Linked DNA regions of Homo sapiens. The protein of the gene in region 1 purifies or fractionates together with the protein of each later gene. This does not show direct contact. Each region holds a gene or a part of one and is shown in the gene's direction. Other genes may lie near its edges.

What was found.
Region 2: the proteins of SLC31A1 (region 1) and B3GAT3 purify together in Homo sapiens (co-immunoprecipitation; 3 studies listed by BioGRID and IntAct, with this or other methods). This does not show direct contact.
Region 3: the proteins of SLC31A1 (region 1) and USP32 purify together in Homo sapiens (co-immunoprecipitation; 3 studies listed by BioGRID and IntAct, with this or other methods). This does not show direct contact.

What each region holds. Positions count from the first base shown.
Region 1 is NC_000009.12:113,220,001-113,223,751, forward strand, and holds the start of SLC31A1 (high affinity copper uptake protein 1), read left to right. Parts: upstream 1-1,543; 5' UTR 1,544-1,678; intron 1,679-3,751. Other genes in the region: FKBP15 (FK506-binding protein 15), read right to left, coding at 1,191-1,243.
Region 2 is NC_000011.10:62,615,256-62,619,006, reverse strand, and holds the end of B3GAT3 (galactosylgalactosylxylosylprotein 3-beta-glucuronosyltransferase 3), read left to right. Parts: intron 1-1,659; coding exon 1,660-2,020; intron 2,021-2,210; coding exon 2,211-2,501; intron 2,502-2,766; coding exon of another isoform or gene 2,767-2,821; exon of another isoform or gene 2,822-3,207; coding exon 3,208-3,306; 3' UTR 3,307-3,711; downstream 3,712-3,751. UniProt on the Homo sapiens protein: Glycosaminoglycans biosynthesis. Involved in forming the linkage tetrasaccharide present in heparan sulfate and chondroitin sulfate.
Region 3 is NC_000017.11:60,207,036-60,210,686, reverse strand, and holds part of USP32 (ubiquitin carboxyl-terminal hydrolase 32), read left to right. Parts: intron 1-1,143; coding exon 1,144-1,317; intron 1,318-1,858; coding exon 1,859-2,033; intron 2,034-2,476; coding exon 2,477-2,628; intron 2,629-3,554; coding exon 3,555-3,651. UniProt on the Homo sapiens protein: Deubiquitinase that can remove conjugated ubiquitin from target proteins, such as RAB7A and LAMTOR1.

The sequences.
Region 1 (3,751 bases):
CCTACTTAAGGACAAAAGAAGGCCAGTGTCATTTTATGGTCATTCATCTATTAACTCATTTGTTTATGTATTGTCTATGACTACTCTCACCCTACAAGGCAGAACTGAGTATTTGTGGTTGCAATAGAAACCACATGGCCCAACAGATCTGGAAGCAACTTAAGGGCAGGCACAGCAGTTTAATCATTTTTGTAACCTCTTAGCATTTAGCAGAATAAGGGGCATATGTGGTGCATTTGTCATTTTTCCAGTACATTCTTCAGCACGCACAAAATTTGTTAAGCATATGTTCAAAGAAAAGCTCTGCAATGATCAGAGCTTGGTAGCTCACAAGTTTGGAGGAAGTCAAGCTGTCCACTGGCACAACACAATGGAAAAGGCTAAACTGACTACTAAAAGAGACAAAACCCTTCCTCTCTTTAAAGATTTCTATTCCAGGCTGGTATATATTAATATAATGCTTGGGGAAACTGGAGAATGACAGAAGTCTGTTACGTTGGTTTTAAGCTTTAAGCTTTACAAAGTGCAATTTCGCAGCTATTATTCATTCAACAGCCACTTCCTGAGCACTCACTATGTGCTAGGTACCATGCTGCATGCTAGACAGAAATGAACACCATAAGCAGTCCCTGTCCGGTGAGGACTCATAATCTAATAGGTGCGGGGTATAAGAATAGAGGCAAACACACCTAGCTGCAGGAATAAGGAAGAGAAAGCAATTCATTCTGCCTGAGGTTGCAGAAGGAAAAGCATCCAAAACGTGACATCCGAGCTGGGCCTTGAAGAATGCTAGAGCTGACCCACCAAGGCCTGGTTCTAAAGTGTCTTCGCCTTCTCCATGGAGAAAAGAAGTCTCACATCAGCCCCAGCTGACTCCTATAAAAATTCTGAGGCAGGAAGTCTCATCAGCAATCATTCCCATTTCACCGGAGAAATTGTGACCCAGAATGCAAAAGGCAAACCCAGGGCTATCTTCCCGCCAAGAGAGATGCCGGGTCCCGAACCTCAGATCGGCAGGGTCAGCACAGTTGCAAGTTCTGCCCAGATTCTGAGAGGTGTAGAGCACCGGAATGTGGCAAGGGTCTCCCCCCGGAAGTTGGGAAAAGGCCTGAGAAGAGATCGACCCCCCTCCAACAATCCGCCGGTATCTCTCAGCCACGCCCTCCAGCGCATACTTCTCAGTCACTCACCCGCCGCTCGGCGAGAGGAAATCGGTGTCGTCCTCGTCCCCCGCACCGAACATTGCGTTGGCTTTCACCGGGTTGCGGGGAGGAAGCTGGGTATTCCCAGAGTCCCAGGGCCTGTCACCGCCGACGTCGTAAAATGCCGCGGCGGCGTGCTGCTTTCCGGCAGGGCGAACTCCAGCACGGTCTCTGGACCGAAAGTAGACTGGGCTCTGGAGAAGGTGGGGCAAAGGCAAATGAGAGGCTCGCGCGGGCACGAGCGCCGAGTGACGTCAGGCCTCTCCAGCCCGCAGCGGGGCGGAGCTTCACAGCCCCTTGCAGGGATTGGTCGGTAATGCTAGGGGGCGGGAGGGGGCGGGAAATCCTCGGCCTCGGTGGCGGTGGTGGACACGTCGAGCCGGGTAGAAGTGGAGGGGCCGTTCGAAGAGTCGTGAGGGGGTGACGGGTTAAGATTCGGAGAGAGAGGTGCTAGTGGCTGGACTTGACCTGGAAAGGTAAGGCTTCTCTCGGCCCCTCTTTCGCACCCCTGTGCATGGGTACCGTCCTTTTCCCAGCGGGACAAGGACCTTCCTCGCCGCTTTCCTCAGCTCCGCGGAAGGAGAAAGAGCTCGGGACTGGAGGGTTAAAGACTGGGGCTTCGGCCCGGCCCCTGCAGTGGCATAGCCAGAGTGACCTTGGGCCGGGGTGCTCGGTGCCTCAGTTTCCCCGTGTATGCAACCGGCCATTTGTCCAGTTCTTCCATGTGCCTGCTGGTCCAGAAGATTTTAGAGCTCAGAGGCCATGGATTTCAATCCCGGCCTCCTCGTAATCTCAGAATTTACAGATAGGGAGACGAAGGAACTAAGCACCCGGGTGACTAGTCCGAGGTCACAAAGAGTAAAGGGCAGACTGAGACTGGATTCCTCGTCCTTTGATTCAGGACATAGTGAGCTAGTGGGTGAACAAGAACCTTATCAGCCCTTAAGCACTGTGTGCCCTTACAGAGTGACTATTGAAAGACTGTAGCATACACCTCGAGGAAAGTCCCCTTTCTAGAGTCCACCTGTATTCTACGCGGATGAGGTGCAGAAGAGCTAAGATATTCTGGCGGTGGGTGATGGAAAGGAGGATACTTTGGAGGCAGACACATCCCCACCCCAACTTTGGCGTGGGTTTCCCTGGGTCTTCCTGCGACAGCCCTAAATCAACATCAATTGTGGCGGACTCCTCTGCCTCCAGTTTCCACCCTATCTGTATCTTACATAAGTATTTCTTTGGTTAACCTGGTATCATTCTCGAAACAATCCTGGGGTAGTCCTGGCTTAGACAAGGTGTGGCTAAGGAGATAGTGTCCCAGCGTAGCGTCCACAGACTCACTGGAGTTCTTGGGCTTCCCCTCACAGTCAGGTTGGTACTACAGGTGTCCCTTACGTGAATGTTTCAATCTGTCAGTATGAAATTGAAATGAAATGATTGGTAGCTCCCTCCCAGAGAACTTTGCACCTCCTGGCAAAGATGTTAAAGCAGCGAAGGCTCACAGTTGGAATGATGCAACTGGAATCTAAGCACTAGAACCGGAACTGGAACTAGAATCTAAGGACTAGCACTAGAACTGTTGCAGTAGCTCTGTTTAGTGTGTGAACTTGGCTACCTCTTGGAGGTGTTGGGGGAGTAACTGGATTAAGTACCATGGCACTTTCTAATCCCTCTCCCCAACACCGGTCACTGTGATTGCAGCACTGAAACATCTAAATGTTTAACAGAAAGAGCTTGCTAGCCCCTGGCTTACATTATCTATGGTATTTTTAACATGGAATGAATACTTAAAGTCACTTGCAAAGCAGTCTCACTGCAGAATCTTTCTAGGTGTTTATGACATGTCCTTCCAGCCTTTTCTTTAAAAAAAAAAAATGGCCAAGGGAATATTTGAACTCTTATCTTGTATTCTTGGGTGGAGCTGATTTTATCCTGGATGTTTAAGTAGCTTTTGTAGGTACTCAGGAATCCTAAAATCAATAGCCTTTTTGGTGATTGGAACATCACGAACATGCATACGCAGATTATCACTGTAGAAACACAGCTGCTGATTCTCATTAGCAGTATGAGGAGGAGGAAGATGATGGTGAGTCTTGCCAGGCTTTGAACTGCAGGACTGGGTGCACCTAAAAAAAAAAAAAAAGAAAGCCACTGTCTTCCTAAATTCGTGTATCTTCAGATTGGTAATACTGGACTAGGAATCAGGAAATCTGAATTCCTGTCCCAGCCCTTATAACTCACTCTGAGTTTGGGCCAGGCTCCCTAAGCACTGTAAAATGAGTGGATTAGACCTGGACTTCTACTGAGTAACTGCTGGGGATACAAAGGTAAGTAAGGCACAACCTTGATCTCAAGTTTAAAGTAAGCATTTTTGTTTATTTGTTTTGCTTAAGTATACAACTTTTAGAATACTCATAAAATATATTGTCAACCCCCAGAAGATTGGCCAGGAAGCAGCAATTTTTTTTCTCCACCCTCCACTCCCCTTACTCCCTCAGGGAAGCAGCAATTTTAATAATTATTTTCAAATTATCAGCAATTTTGCAACAGAG
Region 2 (3,751 bases), on another chromosome or scaffold:
GCTAATTTTTTTTTTTTTTTTCCCGAGATGGAGTCTCACTCTGTCGCCCAGGCTGGAGTGCAATGGCACGATCTCGGCTCACTGCAACCTCCACCTCCCGGATTGAAGCAATTCTCCTGCCTCAGCCCCCCGAGTAGCTGGGGTTACAAGCATGCGCCACCACACCCGGCTAATTTTTTGTATCTTTAGTAGAGATGGGGTTTCACCATGTTGGCCAGGCTGGTCTGGAACTCCTGACTTCGTGTTCCACCTGCTTCGGCCTCTCAAAGTGCTGGGATTACAGGTGTGAGCCACCATGCCTGGCCAGTAATTTTTTGTATTTTACTTTTGTATTTTTTTTTTTTTTGAGATGGAGTCTCGCTCTGTCATCTAGGCTGGGTGCAATGGCGTGATCTTGGCTCACTGCAAGCTCTGCCTCCCGGGTTCACGCCATTCTCCTGCCTCAGCCTCCCAAGTAGCTGGGACTACAGGTGCCCGCCACCACACCCAGCTAATTTTTTATATTTTTAGTAGAGATGGGGTTTCACCGTGTTAGCCAGGATGGTCTCGATCTCCTGACCTCATGATCCACCTGCCTCAGCTTCCCAAAGTGCTGGGATTACAGGTGTGAGCCACCATCCCCAGCTCTTATTTAATCTTTAAAACAACATTGTTATAAAGTACTGTTATTCCCATTTTACAGTTGAGGAAACTGAGGCTTAGGGAGATTGAGCCATTTTCCCAAATTGTCTCACATAATAAGTTACAAAACTGGATTTCAAACCCAGATCTACCTGATCCCAAAGCCTGTGCCCTTAATTTGTTTTTTTTTTTTTTTTTTTTTTTTTTTGAGACAGAGTTTCGCTCTTGTCGCTCAGGCTGGAGTGCAGTGGCACAATCTCGGCTCACTGCAACCTTCGCCTCCCGGGTTCAAGCGATTCTTCTGCCTCAGCCTCCCGAGTAGCTAGGATTACAGGTGACTGCCACCATGCCTGGGTAATTTTTTGTATTTTTAATAGAGACGGGGCTTCGCCATGTTGGGCAGGCTGGTCTCGAACTCCTAACCTCAGGTGATCCGCCCACCTCGGCCTCCTAAAGTGCTGGGATTATAGGCGTGAGCCAACATGCCCGGCCTTTTTTTTTTTTTTTTGAGATGGAGTTTTGCTGTTATCACTGAGGCTGGAGTGAAATGGTGCGATCTCAGCTCACTCCAACCTCCTCCTTCCAGGTTCAAGCGATTCTCCTGCCTCAGCCTCCCAAGTAGCTGAGATTACAGGCATGTGCCACTACACCCAGCAAATTTTTGTATTTTTTTAGTAGAGATGGGGTTTCACCATATTGGCCAGGCTGGTCTGGAACTCCAGACCTCAGGTAATTCACCTGCCTCAGCCTCCCAAAGTGTTATTATAGGTGTGAGCCACCATGCCCGGCCCTGTGCCCTTAATTTATAGTCTCCCACAGCCTGAGCTCTGGAGTTGAGGTGGGTGATGGACATGGACCAGAAGAACAGGGCAGGTGAGTGTTAGCATGAAGTTGACAGGCAAGAAAGAGGGAGTTTAGGCATTGGTTGGGAAGGGCCACAGGAGACGCAGGCAGTGGCCCAGGAGAAGCTGTCTGCCCTGGCTGGAGCAGGCAAATGGTGCCTGCCCCTTTTCCTTGTGCTGCATCTCTCCCCTGCAGGCTGGTACAGAAGGCAGAGCTGGTACGACTGTCCCAGACACTGAGCCTGGTGCCCCGGCTGCATTGGCTGCTGGTGGAGGATGCTGAGGGTCCCACCCCGCTGGTCTCAGGGCTGCTGGCTGCCTCTGGCCTCCTCTTCACACACCTGGTGGTCCTCACGCCCAAAGCCCAGCGGCTTCGGGAGGGCGAGCCTGGCTGGGTTCATCCCCGTGGTGTCGAGCAGCGGAACAAGGCCCTGGACTGGCTCCGGGGCAGAGGGGGTGCTGTGGGTGGGGAGAAGGACCCACCACCACCAGGGACCCAAGGAGTCGTCTACTTTGCTGACGATGACAACACCTACAGCCGGGAGCTGTTTGAGGAGGTGAGCACCAGGATGGGGATGGGCAAGAGACCAGGTGCGGCCAGCTTCATTCGTTACCTTGGTTAGCAGTGTTGCCGTTGGCTGCTGGGTGAGGGGCTGGAAGCAGTGGGGCAGAGTGAGCCAGGTGGCTCTTTCTGCTGCTCCCTTCCCCGGACCACCCCTCTGTTTCTTCTCTCCCGACCTCCGTTAGATGCGCTGGACCCGTGGTGTCTCAGTGTGGCCTGTGGGGCTGGTGGGCGGCCTGCGATTCGAGGGCCCTCAGGTACAGGACGGCCGGGTAGTGGGCTTCCACACAGCATGGGAGCCCAGCAGGCCCTTCCCTGTGGATATGGCTGGATTTGCCGTGGCCCTGCCCTTGCTGTTAGATAAGCCCAATGCCCAATTTGATTCCACCGCTCCCCGGGGCCACCTGGAGAGCAGTCTTCTGAGCCACCTTGTGGATCCCAAGGACCTGGAGCCACGGGCTGCCAACTGCACTCGGGTAAGGGAATGGAGATGGGCATAGAAACCTGGCTCTTGGATGGACAGGTGATGGGGGAGGTACAGTGAGACCCTGGGAATGGGTGGTTTAACCAGGAGGGACTCTCCAGATCTCTGATCAGCCTTGCTGACTCTACTGAAGGGGAAGCTGGGAACTAGCGGGGGAAAGTGGTCTCCTGCCACTCTGCCCCGAGTTCTGGGAACCCATGTGGCACAGAGAGGATGAAGGAATAAGGCCCTGTTTGTTGTTTTTTTTTTTTTTTCAGACAGAGTCTCGCTGTGTCACCCAGGCTGGAGTGCAGTAGCGCAATCTTGGCTTAGCGCAAGCTCCGCCTCCCGGGTTCACACCATTCTCCTGCCTCAGCCTCCCAAGTAGCTGGGACTACAGGCACCCGCTACCACGCCCGGCTAATTTTTTTGTGTTTTTAGTAGTGACGGGGTTTCACGGTGTTAGCCAGGATGGTCTCAATCTCCTGACCTCGTGATCCGCCTTCCTCGGCCTCCCAAAGTGCTGGGGTTACAGGCGTGAGCCACGCGCCCGGCCAAGGCCCGGTTTTAGAGGCACTAAGTCTTCCTCCACCCTGCCCTTTACACTTTGAAGCCTATACTGTATATGTCGATAGGGTTAGAGAATCCATTCCAGGCTCGGGGACCCAGAGGCCTGGCTGCAGCTGGGCCTGGCTCTCACTGCATCCCTCCTGGCACAGGTACTGGTGTGGCATACTCGGACAGAGAAGCCCAAGATGAAGCAGGAGGAGCAGCTGCAGCGGCAGGGCCGGGGCTCAGACCCAGCAATTGAGGTGTGATGGCGGCCCCACCCCAACTACCACCTCTTTTCAGGCACAGACCTTGTGGGACTGGGCCCCAGGCCTGCCCAGGATGTGGTTTTCCAAGTCCTGACCCTTGGAGCCAGAAGTGGCCCCTCTGCCCCTCCAGGCCCAGGGCATGGTCCTGCTGCTTCACCCCTCCCCTAGCCTGCCGTGTGGCACTGCCCACAGGCTGGGGACAAGCAGCCCTTGTGTTGAGTCAGGTTGGCCCTGTCTAGGGTGGAACAGAAGGACAGATGGACCCAGGAGGGAGGGCAGCTGAGTAACTGGGTAACTTATTGGGGCTGGGCATGCACTGGGGGGCTGGAGGAGCTGGGCTGGACCCTTCCCACCTGAGCATGCTGACCCCCTTCCTACCTCCAGAATAAAGAATCTCAACCTGGAGGGGCCTCTTGTTTTCCTTTGCTTCTTACATTGGGTTCTT
Region 3 (3,651 bases), on another chromosome or scaffold:
CAGAGTCTTATTAATTACATCCAATCCAATCCATTTTCAACGTAACTAAGATAGTTCTATCTGTAGAATACAAAGAAGTAGGCTGGGCGCAGGGGCTCACGCCTGTAATCTCAGCACTTTGGGAGGCCGAGGTGGGTGGATCACTTGAGGCCAGGAGTTCAAGACCAGCCTGGACAAGATGGCGAAACCCTGTCTCTACTAAAAAAAATTAGCCGGGCATAGTGGTGCATGCTTGTAATCCCAGCTACTTGGGAGGCTGAGGCACGAGAAACGCTTGAACCTGGGAGGTGGTGTTTGCAATGAGCCAAGATCGCACCACTGTACTCCAGCCTGGGCAACAGAGTAAGACTCTGTCTCCAAAAAGAAAAAAAAAAAGTAGAAGGATGAATGAATGAAACTAATGAATATAAGTTTTATATTAATATCAGATGTAGTAGATTTTAGTGAAGTTAGGATTATTCATTATTTTTATTTAAATACAAAGCAAAAGCTTTTTATATTACAAATTATTAACTATAACAGCTACACATTTGACTACTTACCTCTTGCCAGGCACTATTCTAATTAATTTATATCCTCAAAATAATTCTATAATATAATGCAGTTAATAAAATTTAGGATGCAACAAGACCAGAAAATGTAATTGTTGAAGACAACATTATATTATATAAAATAATGTATACACATATTATTTTATACATGTTATGTATTATTATATACACATTATTTTATGCATATGTTATGTATATACTATGTACCTATAAAATATACATATTTTATATGCATATAAAAATGTAAAACGTTATAGAACAGGATGTCTTTCAATGTGAGCAAACGCTGTTTTAATGTTTCTGTCTTAAATAACATCTGTGTGCCTGAAGAACAGTTTGCTTACATAATACTGAACTGAGGACACAGTATTGCACAGTATTGGCCAAAATACTTCTCTTTTTTTGGGGGGGGTCATTTGACATTAAGATTCAAAAGATTTCATGATTATCCAAAATATATTTGTTGAAATAGAGGCAGACTAAGTACTATACTATTTATTTTCTTACAATGGCTCTGATTGGATTATAGGACATGTTCATTCCAAATTTTATGGGTAGGAAATAATGACTGTGACTTCTCTTATATTTATAGTGGACCATAGCAAAATATGCTCCCAGGTTTAATGGGTTTCAGCAACAGGACTCCCAAGAACTTCTGGCTTTTCTCTTGGATGGTCTTCATGAAGATCTTAATCGAGTCCATGAAAAGCCATATGTGGAACTGAAGGACAGTGATGGGCGACCAGACTGGGAAGTAGCTGCAGAGGTTTGTCAGTTTTGAGTTTCTAATGTAAGCAATAGACAAAATGTTCTGGCCACAAATACATGTAGCACAACTTAAATGCAAACTCAACTATTCTGAGATCAGAACTTTACTGCAAAAATGAATGAATTTCTATTTCTGTGCTTAATTCTTATGCAATAATGCCAAAACAAAAATACGTTTAATGAAAATAGAAAACTGTTGCCATTTCATATTGTAAACTTTATGGGACTGGATGTAGGAATAATTATCCAGTGGAATTTAAAGAGTCCCCGTAATTGCTAAAGTAATGGATACAGTGACCTATAGGCATGCTTTATACTTGTTAATGGACAAATAACTTTAATATTTACCATTGTTACCTTGATAAGAACAAATGAAAAATAGGATTTTCCATCTCAATTTAATATTTTATGTTAAATGAAGAGTAAGGATTATATTCTTTACATTTAAATCCAATATATTTAACTAGCTTCTTTGAATTTATATAGAAATGCTTCTCTTTTGGATTTTGAGAGAAAATTCTCATCTTTTTTATTGCTAGGCCTGGGACAACCATCTAAGAAGAAATAGATCAATTGTTGTGGATTTGTTCCATGGGCAGCTAAGATCTCAAGTAAAATGCAAGACATGTGGGCATATAAGTGTCCGATTTGACCCTTTCAATTTTTTGTCTTTGCCACTACCAATGGACAGTTATATGCACTTAGAAATAACAGGTAGGTCAGAAAGTTCTGAAAAATTACTTGACTCCATTAAATTTACTTTATTTAAATAGCCTGAATTTGTAAGCATAGTTATTTGTTTACAAATAAAGACCGGTAGTCAGCATATTATAATTGAGCAACCTAATTTTAGGCATGACTTGAGGTTTGAAAGATGTAGACTGGGGCATGTTTTTTTGGTTTCAAATATGCCAGCAACTCTCTTTAAAACCCTGCAAAGCCACTGATACTTTTATGTCAGATGAACACCAAAAAAATACTGATTTCACTTAATATTATCCCTAAGTACCATCTGTTTTAGTGTTTACACATAAAATAAAAATTCTAGGCTGAAATATTTGCTATTATATTTACAGGTCAGATATATCTGTACACAGCATTTAAGACTTTCAATGAAACCTGCATTTTACCAATAAAAGATCTTTTCTCTTTACTAGTGATTAAGTTAGATGGTACTACCCCTGTACGGTATGGACTAAGACTGAATATGGATGAAAAGTACACAGGTTTAAAAAAACAGCTGAGTGATCTCTGTGGACTTAATTCAGAACAAATCCTTCTAGCAGAAGTACATGGTTCCAACATAAAGGTAATATTAACTACTCTAAGAAACTTTTGATTCTATCCTCCAAAGATGACATTTTTCTCAATTATTATGATCAATTGTTAGGTTATGTGACCAAGAGAGATACTAAAACATAACGAAAACTGAACAACAACAACAAAAAATGCCAAGTTTTCCAACCCAGAAACTTAAGAGTTTTCTACCAGAATAAAGGGATAATACTGATGGTGGTATTTTTGAAGAAGGGAAATACGTAAGGCTGCCTATATGGAGTGTTCTAGCTGTGTCACTATAGTATAGGTTTCCACCAAAGACTGCTGCTGTTACCAAAGACTGCTGCTATTACCCTTGACAACTCTTCTGTATTACCGCTGTTACTAGAATTCTTCCTAGGTTAAAGTATTTTATGTATTTATGAATGTGTGTTTTTAGTATTTATGAATATATATACTTGGTCTTTTAACACACTAAGAAATTAAGAGTAAAGACAAATTGACACCAATCATGTCTTTCTACATACCAGCTGGGGAAACAAATAATCTAATAAATATATTGCCTACTCTAAATTAAGCTCCTGCAACTGGTATTATTTATATTCATCTTTGGGATTTCTGAACACACTCTCACCTCACTGACAGTTTCTTAATATGAAATGCAAAAATGGAGTCTCTGAGGGTTGGAATTTAGATCCCTGAAACGGACAAAACTGAAGTCAGTCGTATATAACACACTTCTTCCTGTGAAAAGAGATAATAGTTCGAAAATTGAGGTTAGTTTTCCGTTATTTTTATCAAGCATTCATCCTTTATGTAGTTGAAAAATTATTCAATCATCTCGTTGGTTTTACGGATGAAAGCGCCTAAGACATTCTTTTGAAATATGTTAGAGAGAGAACTTTTCCATTTTATCTGAAACATCTCCCCCTTCTCATCTTGCTTCTGTTTCTGTAGAACTTTCCTCAGGACAACCAAAAAGTACGACTCTCAGTGAGTGGATTTTTGTGTGCATTTGAAATTCCTGTCCCTGTGTCTCCAATTTCAGCTTCTA